Regions from separate parts of the Homo sapiens genome. Here region 2 is linked to region 1. The links come from fine-mapping of genetic effects on gene expression. A gene starts in region 1. The other region holds a variant in brackets. All regions are shown on one strand. Distances are from middle to middle. Region 1 holds the start of CHCHD7 (coiled-coil-helix-coiled-coil-helix domain containing 7). Region 2 has its middle 83 kb from the start of XKR4-AS1.

Evidence for each region. PIP is the estimated chance that this variant, and not a neighbour inherited with it, causes the effect.
Region 2: its variant is fine-mapped to the expression of CHCHD7 in whole blood (TOPMed, PIP above 0.99).

Annotation. Positions count from the first base shown.
Region 1 is chr8:56,206,185-56,217,685 of GRCh38, forward strand. It overlaps CHCHD7 (coiled-coil-helix-coiled-coil-helix domain containing 7), which reads left to right and starts at 5,605. Exons shown (of 4, transcript NM_001011671.3): 1 at 5,605-5,653; 2 at 8,414-8,483; 3 at 10,249-10,347; 4 at 11,147-11,501. The coding sequence starts at 8,430. The coding sequence ends at 11,251. PLAG1 (PLAG1 zinc finger) reads right to left here and starts at 5,089. Exons shown (of 5, transcript NM_002655.3): 1 at 4,937-5,089. RefSeq lists silencers at 452-652, 5,074-5,633, 5,476-5,701 and enhancers at 5,714-5,783, 7,354-7,853.
Region 2 is chr8:55,597,916-55,609,416 of GRCh38, forward strand. No RefSeq gene overlaps it. Among named protein-coding and RNA genes, the nearest start is that of XKR4-AS1, 83 kb to the left of the region's middle. The variant G/T (reference allele first, on the strand shown) is at 5,394.

The DNA of each region.
Region 1 (11,501 bases):
CCACCCTGTAAAGAGGAGGCAGGGATAGCTATAAACAGTGAGTATAATGCAAACCTCTGGACAGCAGACTAATCGATTTAAAAGTAAAAATCAAATTATGTCCCTGTAATAATTTCTACTAGGCTTTCATACACATACATTTCTTACAACTTCAAATGTTAATAGCTCAATACTTTTATAAAATGTTATAATCTAAAAATCTTAATTTAATTTCTCAAATTTTACAATGAAATTTGCAAATAAGATATAAAAGTTAATCTAACATAAATGAAAAGTAGTAACAGTGGATTTTAGGTTTGAGCATTTCAAAAAATTTAGGCAATAAAATACAAAAAGCAAAAATTAGTTACCTCCAAAGTAGTCTTACGGTAAAATAGAAAAGAATTCCCATGCATGAATTCTAAAATCAGGTTAACTTTACAGCTAATCAATCTGATTTACCCTGCATTCATATTTTACTTACTTGTAAATACTTTTCCATGACTACCTAAACACTTACTAATTGGTTAAATATGCTACCTATATTAATTCCTGGTAGAACTAAAGAAACTAAAGGTCTACCTTTGTTTTTCAGAAGTGACTGATATAGTTTCAAAGTATTCAATGTTTCAGAAAAGGTGTTTATCAGGTTCTTAAGACATTTAAAAATGGCTCAAGGGATGATTTATAGCCCTTTTACCTTGATCATATTCACTACCTTGGATTTTGTTGAACAGATTCAGTTTCCTCCTTTTGAAACTCTTCCCTTACTCAAATAATTAAAGAATCTAAGATGTTATCAATATAAAGAGAAAAAATTAATATTTATTTCTTATACACTTGCAAACACACCAAAAAGAATATGTATTCCAAGCAATGTAAGTAAGTTTCTTCAGTAAAACTTTTTTTTCCTTGGGGATGTGTGTAACTGGTAATTTTTTATATATCTTAATTTTCCAAAGAACAGGATTCTAAAGAAAAAATATTAAAACATTCTTAGATAAAATTATTTTGACTACACAGCTCAAGAGGCAAATGATTACTGAAACAAAACTTCAAAGATAGCTATAGATATATGTTTTAGTTATCTGGCTTTCCAAATCTCACTTAAGACAGGAGCATCACATTTAATTTAGGAAACAACAAATTTAATCCTTAGAAAGGAAAATTTGCAGAATATCAAACCAAAATGTACATAGTGACAATCAGGATTACATTAAAAATGAAGGAATAACCCCCACCTGTGCATGTTATTAAAACACAAACAGCACCCTTCAAATTTTAAAACTATACTGATAAAGCAAATTCACTAATTTATTTTGCTATAAATATCTATTTACTATTTACTAAAATATTTTGGTAATAATATACAGATATAGAATGTGTCAATATTAGCCCACACTTATAAATCTTCCACAGCAGATAAATTCTTTATAGAATTTCAAGTAGCAAAAGTAGGCATATAAATTTCAAATAAGACTATCAATATATGAGGTTTCTCCGATTCCAACTGAAATAAAGATTTTGACTACACAATATCATGACATTATTTCTGTATACTGGTATAATTTAATAGCTTCAGAAAAGGATGTTCAACAGGTAGTATTTCTAAGGCATCACAAAAGCTCAGTACAATCACTTCAAATTAAATATTGTGCTGTGCCCCATCTAAATAAGACTCTCTAAGCGATTACAGATTTTAGATTGGTGCACTCTGAGTGCGTTTTCTGAACAGACAAGTAGCTAGTTGCATAAAATACAAACATGAAGAAAGTTTTACACCACCCTATATGAGAGGAAGAAAAAAAATCACAATACCAGCACTTTTATTTAGATTGACAATAAACCAGTCATAGTGTCCAAACAACCTGAATAACACGATAATCTAATATAACTTGAATTCCTTCATTTTTTTATAGAGATTGAATTTATTGATATTAGTATCTGGTTTGTCAAAGTGGCAATTATTCAAGATCTAAGTCTCATTTATTTTAAATGCACAGCATAATTCTGACTACTTATAGTCAATGTAACTGTCTTGAGCCAAAATACAATGAAAACGTAAGATAAAATGAAAAGGCTTTGTAAGTCTTAATGGCATTCTGAAACCTCTGGACAGAAGATCATTGGGCATGGAGGAGTTTCCCTTCTCTATTGATAGCTTAATCCTTTTCCAATCAATTTTGATTTAACTGTGGGTGATGAGATTAATCTTTTAATGAGTTCTTAGAAAGTTGTAATTGCTTCCAAAATCAGAAACCACAAGATGATGTACTCAAACACGTTACTGATGTGATGTTGTATAGAGGTATTTACAGAAAGTTGGAAGAACTCAGTTGTAAACACAAGTTAACATACAATAGACTACAAAAATAATAACTTGTTTATACAGTAGGGCAAGAAAAAACATTCTATATAAGAAGTCTAAAAATTCAGCTCTAATTTTAATCCATGTCTATAAATAATAAAAACAAGAGGAAATAAGGATTTATTTCAGAAACTCCATATACCTGTGGAAAATGGAACACAAGTAATTTCTACTGAAGATTAACCTTAATCCCCATTATAGTACAGCTAACAATTTACACATTTTAAATTTTGAAAATATCGTGGAAATCTAAAACATAAGAGCCGATAGTAGTTTATGGTCAGTAAACACTTTCTGTTAAATAACACAAATAAATTCAACTTAGAAAATGAAAACTCACAGGGCTCAGGATTTTAAAAATCTTTTCATTTCAAAGGCGCAAAGTTACAACCCATGCATAGGATGGACTTTAAAAATGGATGTGTAAACTTTTCCATGGTGTTGGTGTGTGTGCTTTCCTTCCCCCTAAAGAAATGCCTACTGCTTACAATTTTAAAGAATCTTCACCACTCTGTAATTTTCAACCAGAAGTCCTCAATGTACCTTAAGCCAAATTGAATATTAAGGTATTTTACAGTTTTTACAAAATGGCTGTAAAATCACATTATGGGCATACACAGCTCTTTGATCTCACTGCACAGAATTCATAACTGTTCAATAATGCTATACCATTACACCACACACCTTAAACTATTTCCATTTTTCCACAATTCCTTCCAAAATCAGCTTCCAAAGCAAAGCAATGTAACATGAAAAGTTCCTGGGAGGGCTTGTTACACAAAGGAACAGTTTGGATACAAACTATACACATATCCATCTTCGGTTGAGGCTGTTTATCCCTCCTGTCCCTCCATCACTCCTATGGGTGGGTGCACTGGAGTAACAGAAAGGGAAGGCTCTTCCATCACCACACCCTCCCAGCACCTCTGCTTTTGGTCCTCAGACAGTGATTCTGTGTAGGTGATGAAAACCATAAGAAAAGAGAAGCTGTCCCTTTAAAATGCCCTGCTCTGTCCCATATCCCACGTGGAACCAACATCAGCAGCACTTTCCCATTAACATCAATGTGATGCAAGAGACATCATCCTTTTATACACATAAAACCAGAAAACCTCAGCTTAACATTCTTTAGGAAGGATGAACAGGTGAAGCAAACATGTCAGGAAGGGGGAAACCAAGCAACTCCACATCCCTCCCCAAAAGGTACTCCAGCCTTGCACTCCAGCCTCTCTGAGCACCATCACCTCTCTATCCCTCCTCTGCAGAGCCCAGTTTAAAGAAAGGAGGGAGCCACTAACAAAACCTGAAGCATAAATGCGACGAAAATGCAATCTAAAGCCGGAAAGGTTCATTCTTCCAATCACACATATTAACTCTATTAAGAAAATGGCATCACTTTTTTTTCCACCCAAAAAAACCCCGCAAAGATCATTAAAAGAGAGTTATAAAATAGCAAATATAGTGTTTATCTTATCTGAGATCAGTCCACATTACCAATAAGTTTAGCAGTTTCTGCACTACCACCTCCCCCCTCGCTCCCCCTGCTTCTCTTGCATCGGATTTTCACGTTTTCTCATTGTCGGTTGAGTTATAAAAGGCTTTTGCCCTTCGAAAGTTTTAAAAAATAAATAAATATTAACTCCTTGGTCCCTGCAAAGTCAAAATGGACTTCAGGGGAAAGGCGGTACATACTTTTACCTTTAGCGAGAAAAGGGGGAGCATCCCGGATTTTTAGGGATTTTTTGCGATTTTTTAAAAATTTTTATTTGGTTATATGCCTGAGTTCTCCCTCCATTTTGGTTGTTTATGATACTGACAACAAGCTGTCCCTGCTCTGTGCCGATCTCCTGCTTTCATTTAGCACCCCCTCCCCCTACCCCCCCTCGCAGCCACACACCCCGGGCTCACACCTCCCTGCAGACCCCGCACCCCGACCCCGGCTTGCCCACCTGAGGAAAGGGCAAAAACAAATTCATTTCTCCAGAAAAGAAAAACCTCTTTTGAAAAAGGGGCAAAGTTACCCCAAGTCACTCAAAGTGCCCCCCAAATATTGCCGACTGCGGGTTTCCGCCAGGCCCTTTGGGAAGCGACCTTCCCCCGGGATGTTTTGGTGGAAAATGCGGAGAGTTTACTCTCAAAACTGAATTTATATTAATTTTTCCCTTATTTTTCGGGTCTCTAATGTCTTCCGCTCTCGCTGCTGCCGCTGCCGCTGTCACAATATTCACAGCACCAGAGAGGAGGAGGAGGAGGAGGAGGAGGAAAACTTTTCAAACTTTCCAGACCCTGAATAAAGGTTTTTTTTTTTTTCCCACCGACCTCACCTTCGGGTCCCCAGCCGCATCGCCCCCTGCCCTGTCAGAAGCGACTTCGGGAGTCCTCGCAGCCCCGCGTAATTATTTTATTTTATTTTTTATTATTATTTTTCTCTCTGGGGTCCTGAGCAGGGGCTGAGAGTAGCACAAACTTTTCCTCCTCCTGCCGCCGCCGCTGCTCCTCTGCCCCCTCGGCTAGTCCCATAATTTAAATAACCCTGATATTTCTCCCGCTAAACGCCTCGCCGCCGCCCCGGACCCCCGGAGAACTCACCGCGGGGCTTTAACATCCTCCCTCCGGCCCGTCCGCCGCCTCTACACCGCCCGCGGAATTTCTAATAATTTTTTTCTCATATTTCGGGCTGGACGCGGCGGGCCTGGAAATTGTTTCCTTACGCCTCTTTCCAGCAGCCATTGTAGTGTATGCGCTGCCCCTGCAGCCCAACTTGCAGCTGCCGCCGCCGCCGCCGCCGCCGCCGCCGACGTCGCGCCCACCGCTGCCTCCCCCTGCCTGTTCGGCCACCGCCCCCGCCTCCCGTCGGCCCGCCCCCAAACCCCGCCCGCCGCTGCGCCCGCCCCCCGCGCGCGCTCCGCCCGAGAGCTGGCCACTCGGAGCCGCCGCTGGCGGGAGTTGGCCCGCCCATTGGGCCGCGACGCCGCCCGTCAAGCCGAAGTGTTAAGAGACGGGCCGCGGCTGGGGGGCGCGGTGGGGCGGGGGAAGAGGGGGCGGGGTCGCGCTCACCGCCCCGCCCACTCCTCCCGCCTCGGCCCTCCTTTCGCCAGGCGGGGGCGGGGCGAGGCCCGACCGCCCCTGCGGCCCAGGGCCCCGCGCGGCTGTCAGTCTGGCGGCGGCGCGCGCCGATTGGGCGGGCTGCCGCCGGGGAGCGGGGGCAGCAAGTTGGGATGCGCGCTACTTAAGGTCCTGCTGCGTGAGCCATTGACGTGTTTGGAGCTGGAGACGGCCTGGGTGCTGGCGAAGCGGAGGCCGGAGGTGAGTGGTTCCCCCGCCCTACCTCCGAAGCGGCCGCAGAAAAGCGGGGAGAGAGGGGTGCCCTTGGGCCGTAGCGGGGCCCGAATGCACTTCTGCGGCGCGGAGGCGCTCCCGCCAGGCTTCGCCGCAGCGCGGACCTCTTCCCGTTGCTCTTCCTCCCGCCACACGGGTCTGTTCGCTCCGGGGGCGAGGAAGATGACCTCTGCCTAGTCCGGGCAACCCCAGCTCTTCTTCCACTCTCCTGTGTAGCCTCTGAAGCGCAGTTACCGGCCCCACCCCCAGTTCCCTGCGTTTTCCTCGCCCCTTGTCTCTCTCGGCATGGTCTCGGCACAGCAAGGTGTGTTCACCTGTGCGCGCCGTCCAGGATCAGATGCTGACGGGCTACACCGCGGAAGGCGGCGAGGCCTCGGGTTCGCCCTTCGTTTCTCCTTGCCCTGCGCGCCCACCTCCGGCAGGCCACCCTTGACTTCTTGCCCCCTTCCACTTTGCACCTGGCAGTGGGTTAACGGCACGGCGTGTGCAGCTTCCGGGTTTAGCAGAGCCGCGGACCCTGCCTGGGCTCCGACCACGGGGCGTGTGGGCATGAACGTGTTCAGAAACGTTTCCTTCCCCCTGCCCTTTCAAAGCTACTTAGAGAGGGGGGACGTGAACCACTGGATGGGAAATCAGGAACTGCTTTATTAAGCAGTTTGCCCTTTGGAGTGGATTTTAGAGTTATCCCCTGAATGTGCTATGGTTTTGTGGCCCCTCCTTCATATCTTTGCTTGGTTTTTCTTTCTGGTTATGCTCTGCAAGTAGTAGAGCCTTGTAACATTTATTTAGTACATTCAAAAAGTAATAGACAAGGCCCCTTTAGCGGAGCACTCGATGTTGTAATTCAGCCCCGCTCCTCACTGTAAATTGACATTTCCTCTTCAATTCCAGTTAATACACGAGGAACTCATGCAAAGGAGGGGACTTTCGGAAATCCAAACTTAGAGTGCCTTGTATTTAGAATCCGGAAGGAAAAGGAAATGAAATGTGAAGAAACTCATGCACCAAACTCGAACTGGGTATATGTGATGTTACCTAGGTATTATTTTTGAAGAATTTCTGACTGACAATAAAATATAGAGTAGGATACTTTCATGTAAGGCACGAAACTTAAATTTAATGCAAGGTTGTCTGATCCTTGTTGAGATTATTAAATCTAAGGTGTATGAAGAGTTCTGTGTTCTCACATCATAGGATAGGTGTAAAAAAGAAAGCTGTGAATTTATTTACTATCATCATCTCTCTTAGGAAGAAGGGAAGTGTGGAAAAAAATTGTCTTCAGGAGAGGAAGAAGCTTGTAGATATAATTGAACAGCATCTTGATTTCTTTTTTGCCAAGATGTTACTGTTGGCTGGTTATTTTCTTGTATTGTTCAATGAAAATCATAAAATTATTATTCAGTGATTACTTAATGGACACCAGAATAACCAAACCCTTTTCCATTCTTTTTTTTGCAAAGGCTGGTCTCCTTTGGCCTGGACGTCCTGATCTTTCCCATAGTAGAACTGGGCTGGGTGTCTCTTTTTTTTTTTTTTGAGACGGCGTCTTCCACTGCTGTCGCTTGGGCTGGAGTGCAGTGGCGCGATCTCGGCTCACTGCAACCTCTGCTTCCCAAGTTCAGGCGATTCTCTTGCCTCAGCCTCCTGAGTAGTTGGGATTACAGGCGCGTGCCACCACGCTCAGCTAATTTTTGTATTTTTAGTAGACAGGGGGTTTCACCATGTTGGCCAGGCTGGTCTTGAACTCCTGACCTCGTGATCCGCCCGACTCGGCCTCCTAAACTTTTGCAAAGCTGTATCTCTAGGAATTGAATTGGAAGATTACTGAAGCACAGTAGCATTCCCTGACTTCCTGCAACGCAGGGAAATAGTTAAAAAGAAGATGCCACTGGAAGTAAAATTTCAACTCTTTTGTTTTTGAAACAGTATAGCTTTTCATAATGTCAACTAAGCAATAACTTGGCTTTTTGGTGTGTTGGCTACCCTACTATTGGCCATAAAATAGGCACTCTGGTACTTCAGTTGATGAATGTTTTTGCTAAAGTTGGACTGTACCGAATTTCATTCTTATTTTGTACGCTAATTGGTGTAAAATAAGGAAGTAATTGTTGGAATGCATACTGTATTCTTAGGTTTTATTAGTACATTTGGTTGCTTAAACTTAAGAATAAGAGTAAACAACAACTGAATTATAATTGAACTATCTTTCTTTTTCGTTTTTTTGAGACAGGGTCTCTCTCTGTCACCCAGGCTGGAGTGCACTGGTGCAATCACAGCTCTCTGCAGCCTTGACTTCCTGGGCTATCCCACCTTACTTAGCCTTCCAAGTAGCTGGGACCACAGGCACACGGCACGACACCAGGCTAATTTTTGTATTTTTGGTAGAAATGGGGTTTCTCTGTGTCGCCTAGGTTGATCTCGAACTGCTGAGCTTAAGCAGCCCTCTCGCTCCAGCCTCCCAAAGTGCTGGGATTACAGGCGTGAGACACCGCACCCAGCCAGTAGATGCATTTCAATCCAATATATGGCCTTTGTGTTGAGGCATGGCAATACAAAGGAAAAACACGTTCAAGTTTTTATTCACAAAGTACAGAGAATACATGAAGTTCCTCACTAAGTGATCATTATGCCAAAATCAAAATTTCAGGTACTTTTAGTGCTATTGAGATGTATTGATTTATTTTCTGTCAACTACTGTATAATTATTTTTTTTCTGTCTACCCTCAGTAAGAAGACTGTTAGAATGCCCTCGGTAACACAGAGGCTGAGAGATCCTGACATAAATCCTTGTTTGTCGGTAGGATGGTTTGCTTTAATTTTCATGAGTGTTAAGTTGGAAAAACAGGCTGCTCTAGTTTTGTGGGCCTTTGTTTTCTGCAGTTGTTGAATAAAGTTATTTCTCTAGAAAAAATATTGTTGGCCAGCATATCCTATTTAACTAGAGCATTTTTAGATGTTTATAATTTCTCTAACAAACATTCATCTTTTCTTTAGTTTTCCTTATTTGTATAATATGCAAGCATTTGGTTGTCACTGTAAAACTAGACAGGAAAATGTAACACTGAGAATATTTAGTCCAAACATGGAAAACTGGAAGGTATGATATTTTTAAACTGTCACTGACATTTATTGTTTCACTAGCAATAATATCACCATGTCCTTGACAACCTGGCTGAGAGTAATGGGCTGATAATATAATTAGCCTATTTAAAGCTTAAAGGTTTTCACAAAGGTATCTGATAAACAAAATGTTTTAAGAGTAAGCTTTTATTGGCATTTATTTGGTATGATTTGCGATACTTACTTGTGGCTTTGCTACGTTTGAATAATGTAGTTATCATACTGGTCCCATGAAAATTATACTCTTTAGTTATATGCATTTTCCAAATATATACATTCATTAAATATTTGGCACAGAAATTCAGCTTTGTTCTGTTTACGTAGAACATGTTTCTTAGATATGTGTTGCAAACTGTCTACCCATATAGCTAAAGCTTTCCTTTAGATCTGTGTTCCCCAACCTTTTGGGCACCAAGGACCGGTTTTGTGGAAGACAATTTTTCCACGGATGGGGAAGGGGGCGGGCGTCAAAAGGCATTAGATTCTCCTAAGGAGCTTGCAGCCTAGATCCCTCACATGCACGCAGTTCACAATAGGGTTCGTGATATTAGATCCCACAATAGGGATCTAATAGCATTAGATGAGAATCTAATGCTGCCACTGATGTGACAGGAAGGGGAGCTCAGGCGGTAAGGCTCACTTGCCCATTGCTCATCTCCTGCTATCTGGCCGGGTTCCTAACAGACCGAAGACCAGTACCACTTTGTGGCCTGGGGGTTGGGGACCCCTGCTTTAGGTGACCTCACAGAATCATACCTTTCACTTTTAAGTTTGTTATTCAATCTACTTCCAGTTCACACAGCTTAAATTTAATCCCCATGTGGCACCTACTTTCCTTTGAATTTATAGCTTGTGTTGTTGACTTCGGTTTTGAAGTAATATCTATTAAAATTGCTTATATAATAGTGTATTTGTATAATGGAGTAAATGGTAGCCAAAAATGCATTGAGATGAATGGTGTTAATTTAGGTTGTCTTGTTGTAGACCAGTTATTAGTGATTTACTTGGAATCTTGAAACCAATATTATGATCAAACATTGAAGCCAAAGTGAAAATCTGGAAAAACAGGAGAGATGTACTGTGAGTCAGGAGATGGATTCTGATTCTAGTTGTGCAGTAGTCATTTAACACATTGCACCTTGCCTCAGTTTCTTACTAAAATGGTTACTGGATTAATTGATCACAGTTATTTGGCTCAAATTCCTGTGATCACATATTCAGAAAACTGGCCCACATTATAAAAAGGAAGATGTTAGCCTGAGCAGAGTGCATACTGGGATAGCTGGCGAGATTGTCCAGTTTTTATTAGTCTACCCATCAAAATGAACACAAATGAACTATTTCACATTATTTGCTTCTGGGGAAGCAGCTTTTGTTTGTTTGTTTGTTTGCTTTTAGATCCTGTTCTACCTTTTAAATGATGCCTCTCTTATATCTGTAAGGAATCTGATGCTTCCACCAGATGTCTGGATGAAAATAACTATGACAGGGAAAGGTGTTCCACTTACTTCTTGAGGTACAAAAACTGCCGGAGATTCTGGGTAAGCCTAGATTGGTTAGCTTTGTGTTAAAACCCATCTCCTAGGGTTGAAACTGAAGCCTAAAATTAGTCAGTACCCACAATCCTTTCCCACTGATGGCTGTAGGGAAACTTAACTTTTCAACTTTATCCTCTGTGTGCTACTTTAGCCGTGAAAGATCCTTGAGAGCTCTTGTTAGCTGCCTCGTCGTCCTCTAAGCTATAAGAATGCAGTTTTAATATAGGTGGGTCTTCTTAGACATTTAAGTATCTGCAGCCCTAAAACAATGTCTTTGTTATAAATTTAGTTTTCCTGGAGATGAACAGAATGTTTAACTTCCCTTGTCATAACACATCATGTTAGGCTTCAATTTCTGCCTTTTTCTCTCTCACTGCCATCCGTGGAAGTTAAAATGGTCCATTTTTCTGAAAACATTGGTATATAATTTCTGTTTCCTTGAACCACGGGATCCAGCTATTTCCTTTCGCTTTGCTAAATGCACTGTTGGTTTTATTTCACGATTATTCAGTAGCTCTTCTTGACAGACTGTATATACTTTTGTACTTTGTACTTTGTATATTCTCATCCCAATTGCTGTTAATGTATTCCTGTGGGAATGAGTACTTCTATTTAATTGTTACTAATTTAAATACGTTTATCTGGAGTCCTATAATTAGGTTTTGGGATTTTTTTTTTAAAAAAAACTTGGTTTTTAGAATTTCCTTTTTGAGGAAGCAATAGCAAATTACTGGCAAATGATTAGCATTTAATACATGACTGATTTTGGTTTCTTCTTTTTTATTTTAATGCCTGTACACAGAATTCTATCGTGATGCAGAGAAGAAAGAACGGAGTGAAGCCATTTATGCCTACGGCAGCAGAAAGAGATGAAATCTTGAGAGCAGTGGGAAATATGCCCTATTGAATGTTTGCATTAAAAGTGTTTATATAACTTAGAAGCAGATGAATATTTCTAATAAATGATTGCTGTAATATTTAAGACTGTACACCCCTCACCCAGACAGACCTTAAGTTCTTCAAGTGGAGACAGTGAAGTCACCCCGTGTCCTTTTTGCTTGCTCTCAGTGCCATGCCGATGGTATGTTGCTGTTGGCTGTGTTGTGGCATGAGTTTGCATGACTTTCTGGAGGCATGGAGTTAGGTAAGGCTACATG
Region 2 (11,501 bases), 610 kb before region 1:
ATAAAATAAAATAAAATAAAATAAAATATCTAATCTCCAACTTTAACAGCTTTATATTTCAGAAGAACGAGGCACTGAGCTTTTATTATGCATTTTAAAAATGGAAATAACTTAATGCTGATATTAATTATCTACGGAATGAAGTAAAGGAATTTTCCCTCCACGTTAACTGGAACTTTCCACTCCACGCAAAGCATAATGAATTTAGCCTTTACTCTCCAGCCTGCAGTGATGCTGAGAGCTCTGGCTTCAAAGGAACAAACCGAGTCCTCATCACAGCTCTGTCCGTGGCTAACAGCTCTTTCTGAGTCTCAGCCGATACCATCTTTCAAGTGAGGGATGTGAACTAAAACGGTCACACGTGCAAGGCCACACAGCCCTAGCACACAATGGGGGCTCTGTACGTCCTTCCTGAGGAAGCAGGCAAATCTCAATGTGTAGATTTAAACAGCGAGACACAGAGAAGTGAAGTGATTGAGACAAAATCAAGGAGCTCTCAGTAACAAGGCCAGGATGAAAATTCATGATCCAATCTTTGGTTTCCTCTTTGGCCCTGTCTTTAACTAACTCACCAATTCTTTACTCTAAAACCCATAGTCAGAAGAAAATGGAAACAGGACAATGCATTTCCTTTGGCATCAATTGCTTTTTTATCTCCAAGCACCATTTAGTTCTGTTTCCATAGCTCCTGGACATTGACGTTTTGATCTGAAGTAGATCTTAACTCTCTGTTCCTTTTCTAAACCAAATGCAAAGTAACAATTTCATGGCTCCGGTCTTTCTTTATCATCTGAAATAAGCCCTTGAAGACCACTGCAGTGAAGCCATGCTATTTTTTAACAATATTGTGTTTAGTGATTTGAAAACTCTTCATTGAGACAGTTTTGGCAGTGTTCATTTTTTATTTCTTTGAGCTCTAACTCATTCTCCCCCTGCTTCTGATCATTCTCATAGCTGTCTCAGGCCTCCTCCTTTGCAGGTCTTTTGTGTTTTGTAGGCATCCCACCAGATTGTTCATTTCTCTTCCTGCCTAGATGGGTTTCTGCAGCTTCTTTATACCATTGTTAAGAACACTAGTAGTTTTATTTCTATAGTTGTGTTTTCTCTAACTTTGTAAATTTTTTTGATAAATGTGGTTTTGCTTTGTCACTCTGAAATGATGAATGGACCAGGATGAGATGTTATTTCCCTAACAAAACAACTTACCTTTTTTTCCGGGATTTGTTTGGAAATCCATGAACAACATCCATAAAGCAATAAAAGAGAAATTAAATTAAGTAGTTCCACTATTTAGGCATTTTTGTTTTATTTTTATATTTATTATTCTCATTTCCAATGTGCTAAAAATTAAGTGTTTACCTGTTGCTGAAACAAAATCATTCATGATTACACTAGATTCTTTTTCACTTAATTATTATTTTTGGATTGCTAGAATCTCTCTTGAAATAAACAGGAAGTGAGGCCCAAACTTCTGCTGCAACTGGATGACACAGAGGCTTCTTATCCCAACCTGCCACCTGGACACCTTAACAGAATCAAAAGCCATGAGCATGGGGTTGTGGCCAGTTTTTATGAAGTTCTGCTGGGAGCCAACACCCTCTCTGGGAGACCATCCTGGGGAGTGGATATGTCAAGAAGGATCCCTAATTTTCTGAGATAAGGAAAACAAGAGTACTAGCAAGTTTGGTTTGGGGCAAAGGTAAATTGTTTGGCGCATGTTGAGATTGGGAGCTTGTGGGACAGCCAAGCATGGAAAGTTGAGTGTAAGAGCATGGAGTTGAGGACAGAGTTGTGGGTGGAACATATGGACATACCATCAACCATGATACAGAAGATAAGGGAAACAACAGGCAGACAGATGCCCGGAGGTGGAGCAGACCCATGACAACACTCTGAGGACCATCAATATTGCTTTGAGGAATGAATATGGAAATAAGAATAACCAATGAAAATCTAAAAGGATGAATCTGAGAAGTCGAGGTAAAATCAGAAGAAGAATGTATCAAAAAGAAAAGCAGAAGAAAGTGAGTCAAGAAAGAAGGCATTAAGAATGAAAAATGCAACAGAGAGAAAATAAGGACTGAAAAGTATCAACTGGTATTTTTATTGAAATATAATTCACATAGCATAAAATTTACTCTTTTTTTTTTGAGACACGGTCTCACTCTGTCACCCAGGCTGGAGCACAGTGGCGAGTGGCATGGTCTTGGCTCACTGCAACCTCTGCCTCCCAGGTTCAAGCAATTCTCCTGCCTCAGCCTCCTGAGTAGCTAGGATTACAGGCGTGTGCCACCACACCTGGCTAATTTTTGTATTTTTTCAGTAGAGACGGGATTTCACCATGTTGGCCAGGCTGGTCTCAAACTCCTGACCTCAAGTGATCTGCCTGCCTCTGCCTCCCAAGTGCTGGGATTATAGGGGTGAACCACCATGCTCAGCAAAATTCACTCTTTTAAAGTTTACCATTCAGTGACTTTTTCTATATTCACAATGTTGTATAACCATCACCACAATCTAATTCCTGACTATTTTCATCACTCCAAAAGAAAACCCATACCCATTTACAGTCACTTCCCATCCCCTCCCCTATCCCACCACCCCACCTCCCTGCAAAGCTGCTGGCAACCACTAATTTATTTTCTGTCTCTGGATTTGCCTGTTTGGGATATTTTATGTAAATGTAGTCATACACTATGTGACCTTTTGCATCTGGCTTCATTCCTTTAGCATATTTTCAGGATCCATCCATGTTGTAGTGTATATCAGTACTTCATTCCTTTTTATGGTTGAATAATATTCCATTGCATAACAACTTATTTTTACAGTTGTTATAGTGTATTTGCTCGGTTATATTCAAGAAGGTGTGAAACCCCTCCCGAGGGTATAAAAGAGAAAAGTAGGGAAGTTTATTCCTCTTCCCTGAGTTCTGTTTCAGCTACCTGCTACAGAAAGCTCTGCTCTCCACTGCCTACGTGGAGACGGGGTCAACAAAGCAGTTGTCAGCCATCACATCCAATAGGAGCATACATAGAGCCCATAGGAGGATTCAGAGACTTCTGAGGGCACATATCATATGTACCCTTTATGGTTTCTCATTTTTGTATTGTTTAGACATTATTCTGTCAATGGTTTTTTATTATTATTTTTTAAGTTCTAGGGTACATGTGCACAACGTGCAGGTTTGTTACATAGGTATACATGTGCCATGTTGGTTTGCTGCACTCATCAACTCGTTATTTACATTAGGTATTTCTCATAATGCTATCCCTCCCCCAGCCCCCCACCCCACAAGAGGCACCGGTGTGTGATGTTCCCCACCCTGTGTCCAAGTGTTCTCATTGTTCAATTCCCACCTATGAGTGAGAACATGCAGTGTTTGGTTTTCTGTCCTTGTGATAGTTTGCTGAGAATGATGGTTTCCAGCTTCATCTATGTCCCTGCAAAGGACATGAACTCATCCTTTTCTGTCAATGGTTTTTTTAGGTTCTTTTCAGTTTGAATTTATTACGAATAAAACTGCTATGAAAATTCAAATACATGTCTTTTTGTGGACATTTAATTTCTCTGGTAAGTACCTAACAGTAGAATTGTTGGGTCACAGATAGTGGTATGCTTAATTTTATAAGAAATTGGTGCATAGTTTTCCAAAGTCGTTGCATAATTTTTTCCTCCCACAGCAATACAGGAGTTCTAGATCCTCCAGATCCTTACCAACACTTGGTATCACTGGTTTTTAAAATTTTAGTAAAGTGGTATCTTGTTGTGGTTTTAATTTGCATTTATCTAATAACTAGTGATGTTTGATTATCTTTTTGTTTGCTTATTGAACATTTGTAGTCTTCATTTATGTATCTGTTCAAGTTTTTGGTCATTTTTTAAAAAAATAATTATCTTATTTTTGAGTTCTAGGCATGAGACCTTTGTTATACATATGCATTGTGAATATTTTCTCCCAATCTATGGTTTGCCTTTTTATTGATTTAATGGTGTCCCTTGAAGAGCAGAAATTTTTAATTTCGATAAAGTCCAATTTGTACATTTTTTTCTTTTATTCTTGGAGTGTTTTGTGTCTAAAAAATATTTGCCTATCCCAAAATGATGAAAATGTTTGCCTATCTTTTTCTCTTTGTTTAGCTTCTATATTTAGGGCAATGATACATGTCAAATTAATTTCTGTACATAGTGTGAGACATGGGTTGCAGTGCATTTCTTAAAAATTTCGTTAAACCAGCTCTAATTGCTGAAAATATTCTTTTTCCACATTTATTACTTTGGCACTACTGTTGAAAGTCAGTTGATCATATATATGTGAATCTATTTGTGGAATCCACTCTGTATGTGTATTCTAACACCAATAGTAAGGCTTGAAATCAAGTAGCTTAGATCCTTCTACTTCGTTATTCTTTTTCAAAATTATTGTGCACTTACAAACAGATGTTAGAATCAGTTTGTGAATTTCTACCTTCCCCACAAAATAAAGCATTCTGGGACTTTCAAAATCGGGATTATGTTGAATTGATGGATCAATTTGGGGAAATTTTGCATCTTATCAATATTGAGTTTTCCAAAACATGAACATGGTATACCTCTCCATGTACATAGGTCTGTTTAAATTTCTCCTAGCAACGTTTTATAATTTTCAGTATAGTGGTCTTACACATGTAATGTACATTGACTTTTGGGAGTATTTGATTCTACTATGAAAGATGAAAATGTTTGTAGTTGGTAACATTGGCAAAAACTTTAAACATTAGCAAAAACTTTTAAAGTGTTTTAAGTATAGATAGCATAATAAGCAAAATCTTTGTTAGAACAGACAATTCACAAGAGGTATTATACAAGATAAGTAGTTACAAAGTAAAGCATGTGCGTACCCAATGTAAGAAGAAAAGGATGGAAGGTGCAAAACATGCCTAACATTCATGAGGCACCAGGATACTAAATATTCATGATACACCAAATGTCATGGAGGTGTATTCAGGATACACCTCAGATAAATATTCAGGAATTATTAAATATGTATGAGACATATGCAGTGCTAAATATACAAACAGCACAAACTATTCAGGATACATTAAATATTCATGAACACTCAATATTCAAAAGGTCTTGATTTACCACCCATTAATGACATCCATTTTGGCCCCAAGAAAAACAAAACCCATGGCTGTTCAGCAAACTAATAGCAAGTTAAAACTGTGGCCAGGTTTTCTTGTGCCTGCATCTCTCCAACAGAGCAAGCATGTGTTACTAGCCCAGGACACCTTCTGTCTTTTCCCCTCTTGCTCAAACTTCAGCTCTTGTCCCTCTAATCATATCAGAGGGGAAGGCTGATTAAGCAACAGGAGAGACAGGACAAGTGAACATAGCATGGCCCAGGATCCAGACAATAT[G/T]GTTCTTCTACTTACTTGCCTCCTCACCAAAGTATATTAAAATACCCCAGATCTTTCTCCTTGATTTTTTGGTTTATGTTATTAATTAACTAAACAAAGCATGTGATTTGGGTTTTAACCTAATGTTTTAATTTGGCCTGTGAACACTTGTTTTGTGATGTCTAGGACAGCATCAGAGTCATTTCCCAAAAGACAGTATATCTTTTGCTAACTTATTCCTAAGTGTTTCCTGGGTTTTGATGCTATTATAAAAGTAGTTTGTTATTTCATTTTCCAATTACTTGGTGCCAGTACATAGAAATACAGCTAGTTTTTATACATTGATTTGTGTCCTGTGACATTGTAAAATTCACTTATTAATTCTAGAAATTATTTTGAATTTTTGTTAGATCTTTTTAAGGATTTTCTATGTATATAATTATGTTATCTGTAAAGATGGTATTACTTTTTACTTTCTAATCTATGTCTTTTTTATTTCCTGCCTTATTTCACTGTCTAGTCATTAGTTTTAAATAGAAATGAGTAGAGTGCACATCCTCACCTTGCTTCCTGTCTTAAGGGGAAAGTGTTCAATATATCACCACTAAGATGTTAGCCATATCAAATTGAGAAATATATTTTCTGCTGTGACGTGGCAGAGAACATTTCTCATGAATGGGTGTTAAATTGTATCAAGTGCCTTTTCTGCATCTATTAAAATGAGCTTGTAGCATTTCTTTTTTATTCTATTAATATGATGAGTTGATTGGTATTTTTCAGTGTTGAATCACCTTTCCATTCCACACTTCATGATGTATTATCATTTTATATATTGCTAGAGTACACATGTTAAAATTCTGTCAAGGATTTCCACCTCTAAAATCATGGAGAATATTGGTCTGTAATTTTCTTTGCTGTAGTGTGTTTGTCAGATTTTGGTATCAGGCTTGCATCATTTAAGCTGAATCTTATATGAAAAGTAGAAGTTCTTCAGGCTTATGAGGAGAGTATGAACATCCCTGACACCTTAAGAACACCTACTATATTACAGTCATCTGACTTGCAATATCTCCACCTAATTCCTCACAAAAATCCTATGAGGACTCTATTGGTATCTACCTTTAATACATGAGGAAAATGGGACGTAGAGAAGACAGGCAGTTTATCCAGTGTTACCCAGTCAATGAGGGGTGAAAGCTGGTTGTCAGACTTCAGAGCCAACATTCTCCTCCTATGACATGCTTCTTCCTCAGCTTTATCCTCCCAACAAGCCTTTGAGGCAAGTTTCTGAGGCTCAGGATGGCAAATTACCTGATCAAGTACCCAGTGTGTAGGTGTTTGACCCAGGTCCTTTTGTCTTCAGAAATAGATGACATCAAAAATAATCAGTATCTGGCCTGGTACAGTAGCTCACGTCTGTAATCCCAACAGTTTGAGAGGCCAAGGTGGGTGGATCACTTGAGGTCAGGAGTTCGAGGCCATCCTGGCCAACATGGTGAAACCCCATCTCTACTAAAAATACAAAAATTAGCAGGAGAATCGTTTGAACCTGGGAGTCAGAGGTTGCAGTGAGCCAAGATCGCACCACTGCACTCCAGCCTGGACGACAGAGCGAGTCCGCCTCAAAAAACATAAATAAATAAAAATTAGCCAGGTGTGGTGGCACATGCCTGTAATCCCAGCTACACAGGAGGCTGAGGCAGGAGAATCGCTTGAACCTGAGAGGTGGAGGTTGCAGTGAGCAGAAATCGCACCACAGCACTCCAGTCTGGGCAACAAGAGCGAAACTCCATCTCAAGAAAATAATAATAATAATAATCATTATCAAATGAAGCCCACTTCTACTCCATGCTCTAGTCAAAATAATTATTTCTTTATCAATTTATAAAAACATGTTCACATCTGTGACTTGAGTGAAATTCCAGAAACTCTTTGCACCTATTGCCACTGATACATTATGAAGGCAAAATACATCCCGGGGATGTTTTCTTAACTACATTGTTAGTACTGTAGATGGGTAAAATTAATGCAGCCGATGTCATTTCATTTTTTTTCTTTCATTATTTGTAATCATCCTGATGGTTGAGTAATACAGAGTATAGTCTAGACAGCAGCTGCAAAACATGCACACACATATACACACTCCAGAACATGTGGCTTCATTAAGGAAGTAATCAATACTCATCAGCATTCATTGCCCACTTATCACTGGGACATATTCTAGGAAGGCAGGAATTATCCTGCTCTCTCCATATCCATTTTTTGAGAAACTTCTTACTAAGCACACCAACTGAGGACATAGAAAAGGATAAAATATTACAGTAGAGTGGAAGGTCATGCCCTGTCTACTAATAGCATCAGGCTAAAAGATTCCCTACTGGGGGTAATAAAATGAAGAAAGATGAGAGGTTTATTAATTGAATCTCTTCCAGGATGTGAGTACAGCTGCCTCTTGGTGATGAACTTGACTTCTCTGTTGCCTGTGATGCTCCAAACAAAGAATGATTACTAGGTGTCACCTGGCACTAAGTTTAAAGCAGACAGTAAACCTTGATTAACCAGAAACATAAACCTATCAGAACTTTTTATAGCTTATGACTTCAGGGGAAAAGCATGGGTCATAGGGAAACTCAATTATTTTAAGATTTACTCAAAGAATGTGCGTGTCATGCCCTGGAGTCAGGGCAGACTCAACTGTATTTCCTATGCGTTGTCCAAAAGAAACCAGGGCAGGGGTCTGGATGTTATGATGTTCTCAAGGCATAACAATACTTTCAACCTCCAAAGAAAGATTTCATTTTGTTCAAAATATTAAAGTTGCTGAGTTGCTGAGGCAGAGAGGTTGAAACACACATTTTTGGATAGATGTTACAGCAACAAAAAGCATTCAGACTTTCCCATTAAGTAAGGAAATAATTTCATCAAAACATCTCAGTTCTTCCACTTTCTGCCCATTATCTCCCAAAGGAAAATAAAATGTCTATGTAGATGAAAGATTAGCAGTGCTAAGTGAGTGGTGGCCTTTATTTCACTGTGGGTAGAGCTTGTGCTGAGGAAGTCTCCTCTCTCCTCCTCCTTCTCCAGTTATCATAGTCCATCAGGACTCTGGTACCACTGCTGGTTTACAGTCAACATTTTCAATATTGCTTTGATGGAGCTGTATTGATTATATATCATCTACTTATTTGTGACAAACACCTTCTGAGCACGCACTCTGAACATAGAGAGCAAAACACAGAGAAGTTCACCATGCAAATGAGGATATAGGTTTACGGTGAGATACTCTCCAATTCACTGGGACGGGCAAGGACAGAGTACTTGGGGTGCACAGAAGTTGTGCAAATTCACAGTACCCTTGGGGTTGGGAATCAGGTGTGCTCAGGGAACATTTCATAAAAAGTCATTTGGGCTCAGAATTGGTCACCAGCCTACCCCAGCCCCACTCTCATCAGGCAAAGTCACCTTGCCTTTGTGTTCCTCAATTTCCTACTCTAGGCAGATGGTGAGATTATTTACATGCATTGTCACCCCTTTTTACCATTTTACCTCTTTTCAATGGAAATGTCTTCCTGGAATAGGAAGAATGTAGGCATGATGATGTCCCTACTGTAGTGGGGAAACCCTGCAGGCCACAGGCTAATAATACAACAATCAATGCTGGGGCTGCCTTTTGGTCAGTTTCCCTCCAGCATTAAAAGAATCCAGGAACTTAGGGACATTTCAGAGGCCTGCTTAGAGGGGACAAAACAGACAAAATAGTAACTCCTCACATTGGTCTGTAAATAGATTCACAGGATGTAAAACAGGACATGCCTTAGAAAGTTATCAGTTTCGTGGGGCCCCCTGATAAAACACAGACTCTGCCCCCATGGCGCTATCTTCTAGAAAAGCTGCATATTTTTAGTTTTAGATACTAGTTTATGCAATTTGTTAAAACCCCTGCCTTCTCGGTGTTACATAAGATTGGCTTTGGGGGTACTTCAGGGGCTCTACCAGAGGGAATCTTAAATCAATTTACATACGTGAAAGATAAATGGGAAAAAATGTATTGGAGGCACTGGTGGGAGCTGAAGTTGAGGTGAGGGTTGAGGGACAGAGGTTGGTATCATTCCATTGTCAGGACATTTGCACTTACTGTTCCCATTTCCTGTGGTGCCCTTCTCTTGGGTCTCATCAAGGCTGGTGCCTTCATACCCTGGGATTCACCTTAAATGGTACTGATATGAACAGGAGGCAGCGAAATACAGGGTAGAAGAGGAGGGTTCCCTGGCAAAGGCCCTACCCTCAAGCCTGGAAACCCATGGCCCTAAATGAGAACAGACATTCCTGTTTTCATGCCCAAATATTCCCTTTTGGCCCACCACACCCCTTATGCTGTACCCATACAAACCTCAAACCCAAGGCTCCACAAGCAGAAGAGTGGCAGAGTGGCAGAGTGGCAGAGAAGGAGAGAAGGGAAGGAGCATCTGAACATTGAGAGGAGTTTGGCTGGGGAAGGTCAGAGAGGAGTTTGGCCACAAGACAGCCAAACTCCAGGGAAAAATCATCTTCCCACTCCATCCGCTTTCCAGCTCCCCACCCATCCAGCTGAAAGCCACCTCCATAACTCAATAAAATTCCTGCATTCACCATCCTTCAAGTTGGTTTGACCTGATTCTTCCTGGACTCCATAAAAGGACCTGGGTACCAAGAGGGCAGGGTATAAAAAGATGTCACCCTGACTCTCCACTGAGCTTGTTAACACTTAGCTGTACACAGATGGCAACTGCTGAAAGAGCATTAATTGTAACACACCCCTAGATGCTACCGTCAGGCTGGAACCCAAAAGCACTCAATGTGGCTCCTGCAGCTGCCTGTGTGCATGCTCCCCCTTCCATAAGAGGTTTGATCAAAGGGTCCATACCCCTGTCACAAGACCCCTGAGGGGATCAAGGAACTCTCTCATCTCAGTACCTCCTCAAAGGAGCCTTCCCTTACCATCACCATACGAGTTAGGTTACAAAAATAGCCTTCCCTGACTACCAGCACTCTCCCTGTATCCAGAAATTATTCCTTCCCAGCACCTTGTGTCAACCACATCATTATTGTATAATGATCTTGATTGAGGGGGCTAAGTTGCTTTTGCTGTGTGTCTCCCATTAGATTGTAAATTCCATGGGGTCAGGCATATTATCAGTCTCCTTCACTGCTAAAAGCCAGTATCTTGTAAAGTGCCTGGCACATGGTAGAGACTGAATCAGTACTTGACAAATGAGCATGTATTAGTGTGTTCTCACAATGCTATAAAGAACTACCTGAGGCTGGCATGGTGGCTCACACCTGTAATCCCAACACTTTGGGAGGCCCAGGTAGGTGGATTGCTTGAGGCCAGGAGTTTGAGACCAGCCTGGCCAACATGGTAAAATCCCATCTTTTAAAAAAATAATTTAAATAAAAATTTTTAAGAAGAACTACCTGAGACTGGTCAATTTACAAAGAAAAGAGGTTTAACTGGCCCATGGTTCTGCAGGCTGTATAGGAAACATGGCAGGGAGGCCACAGGAAACTTGCAATCATGGTGGAAGGTGAAGGGGAAGCAGGCATGTCTTACATAGCTGGCAGGAGGAATGGGGAGGGGTGCTACATACTTTTTAAACAACCAGATCTTGGCAAAACTTTATCATAAGAGAGCACTAGGGCAATGGTGCTAAACCATTAGACACAGCCCCCATGATGCAATCGCCTCCCACCAGGCCACTCCTCCAACACTGGGGATTATAATTCAACATGAAATTTGGGCAAGGACACAAATCCAAACTATAACAGAGTATCAGTTCAAGGAAACAGTCCAGGGCTTGGGAGGAGAAGATTTAGGGCCCTGTCCAGCATGGTGAAGCTGGCACAGCAAACTGAGTTCATTTCACATAAATGGATTTCTAAACCAAAATGTAACTCCATCACTCACTGCTCTTTATGCTCCGAAATAAAGATGACATAAATGTTAGCCAAAAGGAGCAATGCAAGACATTGTTCAAACTGGTGTTTTGAAGAGGAAGTGAGGCCCTTTCTTCATACACATTTCATCTCTACTGGTTGGTTACAGCTACTGAACCCATGTTTTTATTTTTGTAGAACATTTAATGATAACCT